Linked DNA regions of Homo sapiens. The protein of the gene in region 3 purifies or fractionates together with the protein of the main gene of each other region. This does not show direct contact. Each region holds a gene or a part of one and is shown on either strand. Other genes may lie near its edges.

What was found.
Region 1: the proteins of SLC6A8 (region 3) and KDSR purify together in Homo sapiens (affinity purification with mass spectrometry; 2 studies listed by BioGRID and IntAct, with this or other methods). This does not show direct contact.
Region 2: the proteins of SLC6A8 (region 3) and HACL2 purify together in Homo sapiens (affinity purification with mass spectrometry; 2 studies listed by BioGRID and IntAct, with this or other methods). This does not show direct contact.
Region 4: the proteins of SLC6A8 (region 3) and TMEM161A purify together in Homo sapiens (affinity purification with mass spectrometry; 2 studies listed by BioGRID and IntAct, with this or other methods). This does not show direct contact.

What each region holds. Positions count from the first base shown.
Region 1 is NC_000018.10:63,353,656-63,357,371, reverse strand, and holds part of KDSR (3-ketodihydrosphingosine reductase), read left to right. Parts: intron 1-1,808; coding exon 1,809-1,874; intron 1,875-2,072; coding exon 2,073-2,168; intron 2,169-3,716.
Region 2 is NC_000019.10:15,119,236-15,122,951, forward strand, and holds part of HACL2 (2-hydroxyacyl-CoA lyase 2), read right to left. Parts: coding exon 3,657-3,716; intron 3,570-3,656; coding exon 3,458-3,569; intron 847-3,457; coding exon 747-846; intron 281-746; coding exon 183-280; intron 68-182; coding exon 1-67. UniProt on the Homo sapiens protein: Endoplasmic reticulum 2-OH acyl-CoA lyase involved in the cleavage (C1 removal) reaction in the fatty acid alpha-oxydation in a thiamine pyrophosphate (TPP)-dependent manner. Involved in the phytosphingosine degradation pathway.
Region 3 is NC_000023.11:153,690,711-153,694,006, forward strand, and holds part of SLC6A8 (sodium- and chloride-dependent creatine transporter 1), read left to right. Parts: intron 1-593; coding exon 594-843; intron 844-1,264; coding exon 1,265-1,397; intron 1,398-2,330; coding exon 2,331-2,465; intron 2,466-2,552; coding exon 2,553-2,656; intron 2,657-2,751; coding exon 2,752-2,876; intron 2,877-3,194; coding exon 3,195-3,296. UniProt on the Homo sapiens protein: Creatine:sodium symporter which mediates the uptake of creatine. Plays an important role in supplying creatine to the brain via the blood-brain barrier.
Region 4 is NC_000019.10:19,118,618-19,121,643, reverse strand, and holds the end of TMEM161A (transmembrane protein 161A isoform 1 precursor), read left to right. Parts: coding exon 1-119; intron 120-222; coding exon 223-336; intron 337-477; coding exon 478-652; intron 653-782; coding exon 783-879; intron 880-1,460; coding exon 1,461-1,714; 3' UTR 1,715-2,475; downstream 2,476-3,026. UniProt on the Homo sapiens protein: May play a role in protection against oxidative stress. Overexpression leads to reduced levels of oxidant-induced DNA damage and apoptosis.

The DNA of each region.
Region 1 (3,716 bases), on a different chromosome or scaffold from region 3:
TTTGTTTTTTACTATTAGAAAAGCTTTCAGTATTCTCTTTGTGCACGTGTGCAAGAATGGTACATACCCAGAAATGGAATTGCAGAGCTGTAGTGTATGCAGTTCTTCAACCTCACCAAAGTGGTTAAGCTCCCATAAGTAGGAATGCGGTTTCTGTTGCGCCACATCCCTGCCAATACTTGGTATTGACAGACTTTTTACTTTTTGCCTTTCTGATGAGTTTTGAATAGTATTTCACTGTGGTATTCATTGACTTTTTCCCTTCTAGAATGTTAGAGATCTTTCCATGTGCATTAAGTAAATTTGCCTTAAATTGCTGCAGCCTAGGATTGAAGTACACCAGAGCTTATTCCGTCAGGTCCCTGCTATTGAGCTGTTTCCATTCTTTTTATTTTATTTTGTATTTTTATTTTTGCAATTGCAGTCTGTGCTGCAAGTAAAAATCCTTGTGTATATCTTCTGCACATGTGAGTTTTTCTCTAAGACTGTGGTCTTTACCCCCTTCTCTGAAGCCCACAAGCATTGGAAAAACACCAGCTCTGTAAATTGCCCCGTTTTTTCCCGTATTCCTGTAATATCTGATAGACGAAGGAGTATGGTGTGAAGTCATGGAGTCAGTGTTCAGGGCCAAGGCCAGTCTTGCCTGCTGCCAACACTGTCTCCGCTCTGGGCTTCCTCATCATGACACCTTCTACCTCTTCATCTACCAAAGGACTTTAGGTCAGGTGGAAAACTTACCTTTCACATCAAGGAAGGGAGATAGGGCTGGGGCAGGCGAGAATGAGCTTGATCCTTCTGCCCTGCCAGGCTTCTAGGGACCTTTTGTGTGTGTGTGTGACTTGTTAACATTTTTTTGTTCTGAGATTTCACTTGTCTGTGGCATAGATTTTATTATTAGTAACTGATCTAATACTGCATGAAAAGGCTTGTTTTAAAATTAATCATATGATTACTACTGCCTTTTTTTTTTTTTGAGACGGAGTCTCACTCTGTTGCCCACGCTGGTGTGCAATGGCATGATCTCAGCTGACTGCAGCCTCTATCTCCCAGGGTCAAGCAATTCTCCTGCCTCAGTCTCCTGAGTAGCTGGGATTATAAGTGCCCACCACCACGCCAGGCTAATTTTTTGTATTTTTAGTAGAGACAGGGTTTCACCATGTAGGCCAGGCTGGTCTCAAACTCCTGACCTCAAATGATCTACCTGCCTCGGCCTCCCAAAGTGCTGGGATTATAGGCGTGAGCCACCGCGCCTGGCCGATTACTACTACCTTTAAAACAATGTTTTCTATCTGAGGATGTTGGGATAAAATCCACTCTAGGTATACATTACAACCAAGGGCAACCCCTCTAGACTAGAATGCTGCAGGTTATATTTGCAAAGAGGGCTGTTTCCTTTTCTTAGGAATTTTGATCATTTGGACAGGATTCCTTCTTGAAAGGAATCAGCACTGAGGCCCTTATATGGAATATTTCCATCACTCCCTAGGGTTGGCCTGTGCCCTTTCACAGTTCCTTCCATCCTCCATGCCTGGCTGTGGGCAACCCCTGATCTGCCTTCTGTCACTATAGATTAGTGGCATTTCAAGAGGAGCATTTATATATTTTTAAAAAGATTCCTCAGAGTTTTAACTCCAAAAGCTGCCAAGAAAATTAGATTCTGCTAATTGCATCATCAGCAAACACTGAAATCTGTTCATTCAATATTGGCTTCCTTCTGTATTCAATGAACTGTCTTTTCTTTAAAAAATATCTTTAAGAAATAGTTTGGTACCTGCAAAACTTTGATCACTTTTTTTCTTTTTTAACAGGTGGTGCTTTGCATATCAGTTGATGTATCTCAAGACTATAACCAAGTAGAGAATGTCATAAAACAAGTAAGAGGTTGGGCTAATTGGAATTCACCAATGTGCTTGACTTTTGATTTGTTCTTGCCATTTTGCTATGTGGCTTGGAATGGACACAACTTCTCTATAGGTTTAATAGTTTTGTAAATTTTATTTATCAGCATGGATTTGCTGCTGAGTGGTTTTTCTTCTCTGTTTCTTAATGCCTGCTCTGCTACATTTTTCTAGGCACAGGAGAAACTGGGTCCAGTGGACATGCTGGTAAATTGTGCAGGAATGGCAGTGTCAGGAAAATTTGAAGATCTTGAAGTTAGTACCTTTGAAGTAAGTAAAAATGTTTGCTCACTGCAGTAGCACATATGCTAAAAGCAGAGCAAGCTACGGGTAAAAGCTTTAAGAATCAATTAGATGAATGCATTCAGATGTCCATGGAAGCTTTAGAAGACTCTAGAGGAAGGCTGAACAAGGTGAAGCTGAACAAGGTTTTCATCCCAGTGTCAGGACCATTGAAGCTTAAGAGTTTAGACATTTTACAGCTGAGAAAACCAGCTAAAATGGGAATGGACCTTCTAATCTGACACAGATTACTGTAGCAGTTCACTGAGGTCATATTTTCAAGAGAACACTTTGTAACCTAAGAGATGCCGGATGTTCCTATCAAACATCAGTATTATTAACAAGGAGAAACCAAAAAAGTTGAAGGACAGACTCACTAGAGTTCTCAAATCAAGATAAAAAGATACTGCATCTTATTGATGTTTCTATTTTTAATCAGGTTTACCAAGGAACTTCTCTTGGTAATTTATTTCAGCACCAAAGAAATGAACACTAGATTTGAAATTTTTATTTTTTCTTTTTTTGAGATGGAATTTCACTCTGTCACTCAGGCTGGAGTGCAGTGGCGTGATCTCAGCTCACTGCAACCTCCACCTCTCAAGTTCAAGTGATTCTCCTGCTTCAGCCTCCCTAGTAGCTGGGATTACAGGCACATGTCACCACACCCAGCTAATTTTTTTTATTTTAGTAGAGATGGGTTTACGCCACGTTGGCCCGGCTGGTCTCAAACTCCTGACCTCAGGTGACTGGCCCACCTCTACCTCCCAAAGTGCTGGGAGTACAGGCATGAGCCACCAGGCCCGGCCTGAAATGTTTTTAAAATGGAAAACGTTTTTTAGTTGCCATCGCATCAACAATCTTTTTCTTCCTTTTTTTTGAGACAGAGTCTTGCTCTGTCGCTGAGGCTGGAGTACAGTGGCACGATCTCGGCTCACTGCAACCTCTGCCTCCCGGGCTCAAGCGGAGTGTCCTCCAGCCTCCTGTGAGGATGAAGCTGGGGAGTGTGTTGGTGTCTTCGTGTGCGCCGTCTAGACAGACTTTCCCTTAAACCTCTCTCTTTATCTAGACTTACTATCCCTAGAAACAGAACCTCCAGTCTCCTGCCAGGCTGGAAGAGGGGTACAGATCTACCCTGTGGAGAGGGGAAAAACATCTAAGATCTAACTGCCTTTTTTTTTCATTGTCCTACATTATTTTTTTAATTTGAAGTGAAATTCATATAACATAAAATTAACTGTTTTTAAAGTGAGCCATGCAGAGGGATTCAGCATATTCACAATGAGGTGCACCCACCCCCTCCGCCTAGTTCTAAAGCATATGCATCACCCATAGGGCGGCCCTCACCTGGTAAGCAGTTGCTCCCCATCCCTGCTCACCCCCACACCCAATCTCTGACAACCACCAATCTGTATTCTGTCTCTGGTCATTTCGTATGATTGGAATCATGATATGTGCACTTCTGTGTCTGACCTCTTTCTCTTAGCATCAGTTTTTGAGGCTCATCCACATGTAGCATATATGGGTGCCTCATTCCTT
Region 2 (3,716 bases), on a different chromosome or scaffold from region 3:
GCGGCCTAACAGCCCCCGTGCCATCCCTCCAAGGAAGCAGGGAACACCCAAGGTCTCCACGGCAGCCCTGGGAGTCCAGGCAGAGCAGAGGTCAGTGTGGCCGGGGCCTCCCGCCTCCCCAAGAGCACCCGAGGACTGGGGACTGGGAACGTGAAAACAAGGGCAGGGCTGGCGCTTCTCACCGAAGCTTGTCGGCAGACGTTGGGGTGAGCAGGGCCTGACTCCCCAGCACCATCAGAGGCCTCTTGGCCCGGCTCAGGATCTCCACACAGCGCTGAACCTGGAGCGAGAGGTGGGGATCAAAGGGCTGTCTTTTTATTTATTTATTTTTTTGAGACACAGTTTCACTCTGTTGCCCAGGATAGAGTGTAATGGCATGATCTCAGCTCACTGCAGCCTCCACCTCCCAGGTTCAAACGATTCTCCCGCCTCAGCCTCCAGAGTAGCTGGGATTACAGGCGCGTGCCACCATGCCTGGCTAACTTTTGTATTTTCAGTAGAGACAGGGTTTCACCATGTTGGCCAGGCTAGTCTTGAACTCCTGGCCTCAAGTGATCCGCCTGCCTCGGCCTCCCTAAGTGTTGGGATTGCTGCTGTGAGCCACCGCGTCCAGCCAAAGGGCCGCCCTTGAGTCGCCATGAGCACCCAAGATTAAGGCCCCAGTACTGACTCAGGGAGAGGGTCAGGGGGCCCTCTCCCCTCAGGGAGAGGGTAGGGTCCTCAGACACAAAAGAGAGGCAATTCACCTGCTGCGGGGAAGCCTGGGGGATGTCCAGGGGCAGCGGTCCCTCGGGCTGAGGCTCCCAGGCTCCTGCAAAGAGGTTGGCCAGGTAATTCTCTAAATACCTGCAAAAGGGAGGGGGAAGAAACCAAGTTGCCAGAATTAACTAACTACAAGGATTCCAGGATCTGAGCAAGGAAAGGGGCCGGGAGAAAAGCCAGGAGCAAAGTGGCATGGGGACAGGGTGGATGAGTGACACCTCAGGGACAGACGAACCCTAGTGGCCAGGTCTTCAACTGCCTGTTTGCCCTCGGTAGCCTCTGGGGTCCACCCCAACTCCACGTAGCCCCCCAGAAGCAAGGAACGCAGGCTCAGCATGCCAGGATTAAGCCTGTGGGTCCAACAGATGTGAGCTCAAGTCCTGGCTCTGTCACTTCCTAGCTGTGCAACTTAGGGCAAGTGACTTCACCCTTCTGAGCTTCCACCTCTGTCAATGTAAATATGAACCTCCCTCCCCAGGTTCAAGGATCTGTCCACTTAGGACATGAGGCGCTTTGCATGGGAGTTCTGAACACTGTCCTCTCCTGCTTCAAACAGGGTCTTCTCGGTCTCCTTGCTCACTGGGCCCCAGGGCCCCAACTTTCCTGAAGGACCTGTGCAGGGCCCTGGAGACACAAAGATAGATCCTGCCCAGCCCTCCCCTCAGGGGGCGCTCTATCCAGCGAAAGACAGACACATGGGCATTGGCAGGAAACAGTCGGAGCTCAGAGTCAGAAGCCTCTGCTTTCACCGTTAAGGACAGGCCAAGACAGCACAGAAGCAGCCCAGGATGGAACCGTGGGAAGCCCCGCAAGTAAAGAAAAGGCAAGGGAGGCTGAGGCAGGAGGATTGCTCGAGGCCAGGAGTTCAAGGCTGTGGTGAGCTATGATCATACCACTGCACTCCAGCCTGGGTGATAGAGTGAGGCCCTGTCTCAAAACAAAACAAAACAAAAAAGGCAAGATAAGAGATAGCCTTGTGAGAGGCAGCCCAAGAGAGAGGGGCAAGGAGAACAAGGGGAGGGACTGACTGGGAAGCCAGGGGGCAAAGTGCATTAAGAATGAGGCTATATGACCAAAATGGTGAAACCTCATCTCTACTAAAAATACAAAAATTAGCTGGGTATGGTGGACTGCACCTGTATTCCCAGCTACTCCGGGGGCTGAGGCAGGAGAATCACTTGAACCCGGGAGGTGGAGGTTGCAGTGAGCCAAGATCGCACTACTGCGCTCCAACCTGGGGGACAAAGCGAGACTCCGTCTCAAAAAAAATAAAGAGGCCATAGAACAAAATCACTACTGCCTGAGCTGACCCTCAGGCGCTTCACACACATCCGGAGTACAGGAGCCTGACTACCTTGTCCACTGATGATGCCCCGTGCCTGTCCTGGAACCTGGCACATGGCTGCCGCTCGCTAAATGTATGGAAAGGAAGGGCCAAGGACAGGCAAAGGGAAGGGACTGAGGGGAAGGGAGAGAAGGAGGAAGAAGAGGAAGAGGAGGAGGAGAAGAAAGGAAAGGAAGAAGAAGAAGAGAAGAGGCCAGGCGCAGTGGCTCATGTCTGTAATGTTTGAGAGGCCGAGGAGGGTGGATCACTTGAGGTTAAGAGTTCAAGACCAGCCTGGCCAACATGATGAAACCTCGTCTCTACTAAAAATACAAGTATTAGCCAGGTGTGGTGGCGGGCGCCTGTAGTCCCAGCTACTCAGAAGGCTGAGGCAGGAAAATCACTTGAACCCAGGGGGAGGCGGAGGTTGCAGTGAGCCGAGATCACGCCACTGCACTCAAGCCTAGGCAACAGAACGAAGAATCTGTTTCAAAAAAAAAAAAAAAGAAAGAAAAGGACAAAGATGTGAGGGAAGGAAAGGAGGAGGAAGGAGAGGGCTCGAGTCTGGGCTCTGCCACTTTTTTTTTTTTTTTTGAGACGGAGTCTTGCTCTGTCACCCAGGCTGGAGTGCAGTAGCACGATCTTGGCTCACTGCAAGCTCCACCTCCTGGGTTCACGCCATTCTCCTGCCGCAGCCTCCCAAGTAGCTGGGACTACAGGCGCCCGCCACCACGCCCGGCTAATTTTTTTTTTTTTTGTATTTTTAGTAGAGATGGGGTTTCACCATGTTAGCCAGGATGGTCTCGATCTCCTGACCTCGTGATCTGCCCACCTCGGCCTCCCAATGTGCTGGGATTACAAGTGAGAGCCACCGCACCCGGCCTGGGCTCTGCCACTTCTTAGCTGTGTGACTTTGGGCAAGTGACTTCACCTTTCTGAGCTTCCTCCTCTGTAAATGTAAGAATGAACCTCCCTTCCGAGGTTCAAGGATCATCCTTTAGGAGGAGGAAAACGGAGAGGACGATGGGAAAGGTGGTGGGGGAAAGGGAGGAGAAGAGGAAGGAAGAGGGAGGAGGAAGAGGAGGAAGAAGAGATGATGGAGGAGGAGAAGAAAGGGAAAAGGAGGAGGAGGAGGGCTGTCCTGAGCCTCTCCCCTTTGCTGCCTCCACGAGGGCCGCCTTGCTTTCCCTACCCACCCAGTTCATTCCTGCCTCAGGACCTTTGCACATGCTGTTCCTTCTACCTGGAATGCTCTCCCCCCAGCTGTCTCCTCCCAGTCCACATGTGAATCAAAGGAGGATGGGTGTGGGCTGGAAGCTGCAGGAGAGAACGGGGGATAAAGGAGGGAATGGCAGGGGTGGGGCTATTCACCAGGAGACCACTCGGCCCACGAGGCCCTTGGGTGGCTTGGCTGGCACCATCTCCTTCTGGACCATGAAGTAGGGGTACAGCACGTCAACGGGCAGCTCCACAAACACCGGACCTGCAGGGACAGGGAGGACGCTGAGTCCATAACATGTCCCCAGCCCCTCGGCCCCAGCACTGCTCAGCATCACCATCCTCCACCTACCTGGGGTGCCCGACTGGGCGGCAGCCATCGCGGCCCTCAGGGTGGGCACAATGTCCCGCA
Region 3 (3,296 bases):
CAAGGACAGGCCAGGCATAGCCGGGCTGGGGACGGGACCTGCCCAGCAGCACCCTTGGCTCTCTAGGTAGGTCCTACTGTTACTATCCCCAAGGACGCTGGGGCACAGACAGGTGGAGCGACGTACTGAGGTTGCCCACTGCAGGGGCGACTGTCTCCAACACTACCTCAGGCGACTAGAAACCCCCCCCCCCCACCACCACCATCAACACCAGCTGCTGAGGACTGGAGGCTACTGGGTGGCCAGGCAGAGGCTTGGACCTCCTGGAACCGCCATGGTGGCAGTGGGACCCACAGAAGGGGCCAGGTGTATGAGGCTGGAGACTCCACAGCACTTGGTCAGATGGGGACAGGAGGAGAGGGGCTCGCTCTGCCTTGGGTCTAGGGGGCGGCTGGAGGAGAGGAGACAGGCTGGGGAGTCAGCGCAGTGTTGGGGCTCACACAAGGGGGAGCCCAGGGGAGTCAGGAGCACCACAAACAAGGCTCCAGGAGGACAGATGGTGGGAGCACGGCCAGCCTGGGTGGGGACATAAAGGGGTGGCAGGGGGAGGTGGCCAGGGAAGAATCTACATGGCAAGGACTTCCCGGCCCCAGGCCTGGGCTACGCCTCCATGGTGATCGTCTTCTACTGCAACACCTACTACATCATGGTGCTGGCCTGGGGCTTCTATTACCTGGTCAAGTCCTTTACCACCACGCTGCCCTGGGCCACATGTGGCCACACCTGGAACACTCCCGACTGCGTGGAGATCTTCCGCCATGAAGACTGTGCCAATGCCAGCCTGGCCAACCTCACCTGTGACCAGCTTGCTGACCGCCGGTCCCCTGTCATCGAGTTCTGGGAGTGAGTCCGGCACCTCTGGGCCAAGCCCATCCCATCCCCCAGGTCTCCCTCATGTTGCCCGGCTCCAGGGGAGTGGCCCTGAGGGGGCACCAGGGTGTTGCCTGGCAGTCCATCCTGGACCCTGCCTGCCCTTGCCTGTCCTCGGAGAGTCCTGGGGCCAGCCTCGCTCCTGGGTTCGGCAGCCGATCACTGTCCTGGTCACTCCCCCCTGATGGGGGAGCTGGGGCTGCATGTGAGGTGGGATGGGAGTGGCCTCCCAATGGCCAGGGGATCGTGGGCTCCAGGCCCAGCCCAATTGGACAAGAGGGACCCGCTGAACCCTGGGCTGTGGGAGAGAAGGGAGCCACAACTCCTGGGGGTGGACCCTGTGGCTCCATCCTCTGCTGGCACAGGCCTCATGGGACCTCCCTCCCTCCCCTAGGAACAAAGTCTTGAGGCTGTCTGGGGGACTGGAGGTGCCAGGGGCCCTCAACTGGGAGGTGACCCTTTGTCTGCTGGCCTGCTGGGTGCTGGTCTACTTCTGTGTCTGGAAGGGGGTCAAATCCACGGGAAAGGTACCACTAGAGGCATGCAGCGGGGAGGGTGGCTCAGCCCTGGGAGCCGGATGTCTGTGCCAGGCACACCTGTGGCAACGGGAGGTGACCAGACAGAGTCTAGCCCTAAGGAAGGGGGAGGTACTGAAAGCCAAGCAATGCTCCCCACCCTGCAAATCCAGGGCCCAGCAGCCTTTGCTCCTGGGGATAGAGGCCCTGGCAGGCACTGTCCCTTCCCTGTGCCCATCACCCCCACTGGTGCCCTCCTGCCAGTCTCTGACTCTTGTGACAGTCTGGTGGACCTGGTCTGGCCATCTGTTACCTATCTTGCCTTGGGGACCCAGAGCAGAGTCTGGCCACATCCCTTGGGGGCTCCTGGTCAGGCTGGGGAGTCACCTGAACAAAGAAGACAGTGTCTAGAGCTGTGGGACATGGCCAGCTCCCTGGGGGACAAGGTCCCCAGAGCAGCATGTGGGAAGAGGGGGCAGACAGTGTGGCAGCTGCATCTCGCCTGCCTCTGCCTGGCCCAGTTCCACTCTCCACCTGCTCAACCCCCACCTCTCTCCAGAAGAGGAGGGGGACCCGACCCGGATCCAATATCCCGCTCCCTGCCTGGGCCTCCCACACCTGCACTGCCCACACACTCATACAGCTCTCACTCCCCACGTGCTCCACGCCTCCTGTCCCCACTGAGGAGAGCTCCCAGAGGCTCGCCTGCTCCCCACCGACACGCGTCCCTGCAGACAAACGAGGCGCCCAGGGAGCTTCCCCACTGCACTTGGCCAGGGCTGCCGGGGCGCAGCCTTGCCCCTAGCTTCCTCTGGCGGGAGCCATGGCTCGGAGGACAATGGGGACCTCTGAACATACCTGCCCGCAAGGGGGACCGGAGGCGCTGGGAGTGGGGGTGTGAGGGAGGTGGTGCCACAGCCTCCGCTGAGCAGCCTGGCCCCCCAGATCGTGTACTTCACTGCTACATTCCCCTACGTGGTCCTGGTCGTGCTGCTGGTGCGTGGAGTGCTGCTGCCTGGCGCCCTGGATGGCATCATTTACTATCTCAAGCCTGACTGGTCAAAGCTGGGGTCCCCTCAGGTGAGGTGGAGGTGGAGAGGCTGCAGCAGGGCGCTGCGGGGGAGCCCTGCAGGCCCCTCATGCCTGCGCTCTCCGGCCCTTCTCTAGGTGTGGATAGATGCGGGGACCCAGATTTTCTTTTCTTACGCCATTGGCCTGGGGGCCCTCACAGCCCTGGGCAGCTACAACCGCTTCAACAACAACTGCTACAAGTAAGCACCGCCGCCCTGCCACCCGTGCCCTGTCCTGCCCTGCCCCGCCCTGCCCAGCAGCCTAACCCATCCACTCTGGCCCCTCCACCCCTCAGGGACGCCATCATCCTGGCTCTCATCAACAGTGGGACCAGCTTCTTTGCTGGCTTCGTGGTCTTCTCCATCCTGGGCTTCATGGCTGCAGAGCAGGGCGTGCACATCTCCAAGGTGGCAGAGTCAGGTAGGGCCCTACCCCCAGCCCCGCCTCCAGAGCAGCGAGTGCTACCCAGATGCATGATGTACAGGAACATGCAATAGAAATGCTGAAAAGTGACGAGGATTCAAACGGAACTTGTCAGATTGTGGGCCTGTGGGGGCAGGTCCTGGGATTTGTCAATGTTGACAGAGAAAGGACCTCCCAGCCCCTGCCGCACGACCCAGGGTTGACAGCGCCTCTGAGGCAGGCGTGGGCATGGGCGCGAGTGTTGCAGGCAGGGCTCAGGGTGCGCACAGGGCAGGACATCGGCTACAAGGTCTAGAGCCTGCACCTTTCCCACAGGGCCGGGCCTGGCCTTCATCGCCTACCCGCGGGCTGTCACGCTGATGCCAGTGGCCCCACTCTGGGCTGCCCTGTTCTTCTTCATGCTGTTGCTGCTTGGTC
Region 4 (3,026 bases), on a different chromosome or scaffold from region 3:
CGCGTGGGACTGGCAGTGGTGGGCTCTGTGCTGGGTGCCTTCCTCACCTTCCCAGGCCTGCGGCTGGCCCAGACCCACCGGGACGCACTGACCATGTCGGAGGACAGACCCATGCTGCAGTTAAGTGGGTCGCTTGGTGGGTGGGGGGACTAGGGAGCTTAAGGGAGAGACTCGAGGAGAGGGGGTACCCAGGCCTCACTCCCTCCTGCCCTCACCCCCCAGGTTCCTCCTGCACACCAGCTTCCTGTCTCCCCTGTTCATCCTGTGGCTCTGGACAAAGCCCATTGCACGGGACTTCCTGCACCAGCCGCCGTTTGGGGAGACGCGTTTCTCCCTGTGCGTATTGGGTGGGGCTAGGAGGTAGCTGGGGCTCCCCTGGGTGCCCTAGCCTCTGAGATTCAGGGAGGAGCCTGGGGAAGATCCTGGGGGGTCGGGGGCGACCTTCTTAGTCCCTTGCCCCCGGCCCTCTCCGCACAGGCTGTCCGATTCTGCCTTCGACTCTGGGCGCCTCTGGTTGCTGGTGGTGCTGTGCCTGCTGCGGCTGGCGGTGACCCGGCCCCACCTGCAGGCCTACCTGTGCCTGGCCAAGGCCCGGGTGGAGCAGCTGCGAAGGGAGGCTGGCCGCATCGAAGCCCGTGAAATCCAGCAGAGGGTATGGACGCCCCGATGACCTAGGCCAGAGGGAACCTGGGGCTCAGGGTGGGGTTCCTGGTCCTTTGGGCGTGGAGTCGTCCCAAACCAGAAGGCCTCCTGCTGCAGCCACCCCTGCTACCTGCCCACAGGTGGTCCGAGTCTACTGCTATGTGACCGTGGTGAGCTTGCAGTACCTGACGCCGCTCATCCTCACCCTCAACTGCACACTTCTGCTCAAGACGCTGGGTGAGATGCCGCGGTGTGGGGGTGGAGGAGGGGCGGAGTTGGAAGATAAAACAGAGTGGAGGTGGACTCTGGCGGGGACCGCGGTGGGGGGGGAGAGGCGGGGCCTAGGCAGGGGGCGGAGACTGTGGTAAGGCAGGGTCTGAGCAGGAAGCGGAGCCTGGAGTGGGGCTTGCCTTGGACAGGAAGTGGAGCCTGGGGATGGGTGCAATCTGAGCAGGAGGCGGGGCCTGGGTAGGGGGCGGGGACTGTGGTGAGGCAGGGTCTGAGCAGGAGGTGGAGTTTGGGATGGCGTTTGCCTTAGGAGGTGGAGCCTGGGGAGGGGTTGCGTCTTGGCAGGAGGCGGGGCCTGGGGAGGGGGCAGGGCATGTATTGAGGCAGGATCTGAGCAGGAGGTGGGGCCTGGGGTAGGGTTTGCCTTGGACAGGGGGCAGCGCCTGAGGGGGTGGAGACTGGGCTGGAGATGGAGTCTGAGACAGGGGTGGGAGTGTCTGGAGGAATGGGCCTGGCCCCCCGTGCCAGCCCTGTCCCTCGCCCCCTCCCCCATTTTTCCACTCATACCTCGCTTCATCCTCTTCTCCTAGGAGGCTATTCCTGGGGCCTGGGCCCAGCTCCTCTACTATCCCCCGACCCATCCTCAGCCAGCGCTGCCCCCATCGGCTCTGGGGAGGACGAAGTCCAGCAGACTGCAGCGCGGATTGCCGGGGCTCTGGGTGGCCTGCTTACTCCCCTCTTCCTCCGTGGCGTCCTGGCCTACCTCATCTGGTGGACGGCTGCCTGCCAGCTGCTCGCCAGCCTTTTCGGCCTCTACTTCCACCAGCACTTGGCAGGCTCCTAGCTGCCTGCAGACCCTCCTGGGGCCCTGAGGTCTGTTCCTGGGGCAGCGGGACACTAGCCTGCCCCCTCTGTTTGCGCCCCCGTGTCCCCAGCTGCAAGGTGGGGCCGGACTCCCCGGCGTTCCCTTCACCACAGTGCCTGACCCGCGGCCCCCCTTGGACGCCGAGTTTCTGCCTCAGAACTGTCTCTCCTGGGCCCAGCAGCATGAGGGTCCCGAGGCCATTGTCTCCGAAGCGTATGTGCCAGGTTTGAGTGGCAAGGGTGATGCTGGCTGCTCTTCTGAACAAATAAAGGAGCATGCCGATTTTTACAAACAGGGTCTGAGTGGTTTGGGACTCGGGCTTGTGCAGGGTGGTAGCTGTCTTGCACGTCCCTGTGGCACCTGCCCGGGTGCAGGGTGGGGGCTGCGCGGGAGGGAGAGAGGAGCAGGACTGAGAGGGGAGCAAAGGTCTGGGAGGAGAAAGGAGAGCAAGAAGGAGGCCAGGCTCGGCGGCTCACGCCCGTAATCCCAAATCCCAGCACTTTGGGAAGCCAAGGCGGGCAGATCACTTGAGGCCAGCAGTTTGAGACCAGCCTGGTCAACGCATGGTGAAACCCAGTCTTTACTAAAATAACAAAAATTAGGCATGGTGGCGCATGCATGTAGTTCCAGCTACTGAGAAGGATGAGCCAGAAGAGTCGCTTGAACCTGAGAGGTGGAGGCTGCAGTGAGCCGAGATCGCATCACACTCCAGCCTGGGTGACAGAGTGAAACTCTGTCTCAAAAAAAAAAAAAAAGAAAAAGAAGAAATGCAAGTGTCCCAGGAAAAGTCCAAAAGCAGGATGGAAGAGACCAGAAATCAGGGGAAGTTGGAGTCCCAGCTGAGAGGGCAGGTGGCCTGGGACGGACGGGCAGGTGAGAGAAATGCACCATGAGGGAGTGCCAGGAGAAGGTTAGATGGGCAGGGAAACCTTAGAGGAAAACCAGTTTGAGGAATGGGAGGGCGGGGAGCCCACAGTGATGCCAGCGTCTGCTACAGGTATGCAGGTGACTTGTATAGATATCACACACAGGGAGGGGGGAGGGGCATATTGAGGCCTTGGTGACCCAGGGAAGGGATGTGGGGCCGTCATGGACTCTGAAATTGTCCTGTAGCTGTGACTCCAGGGTGTGTCCACACGTGTGTTACAATGTAAGGTGCAGGCTGGGTGCCGTGGCTCATGCCTGTAACCCAACACTTTGGGAGACCGAGGCAGGCCAATCACCTGAGGTCAGCAGTTCAAGACCAGCCTGGCCAACATGGTGAAACCCTGTCTCTACTAAAATACAAAAA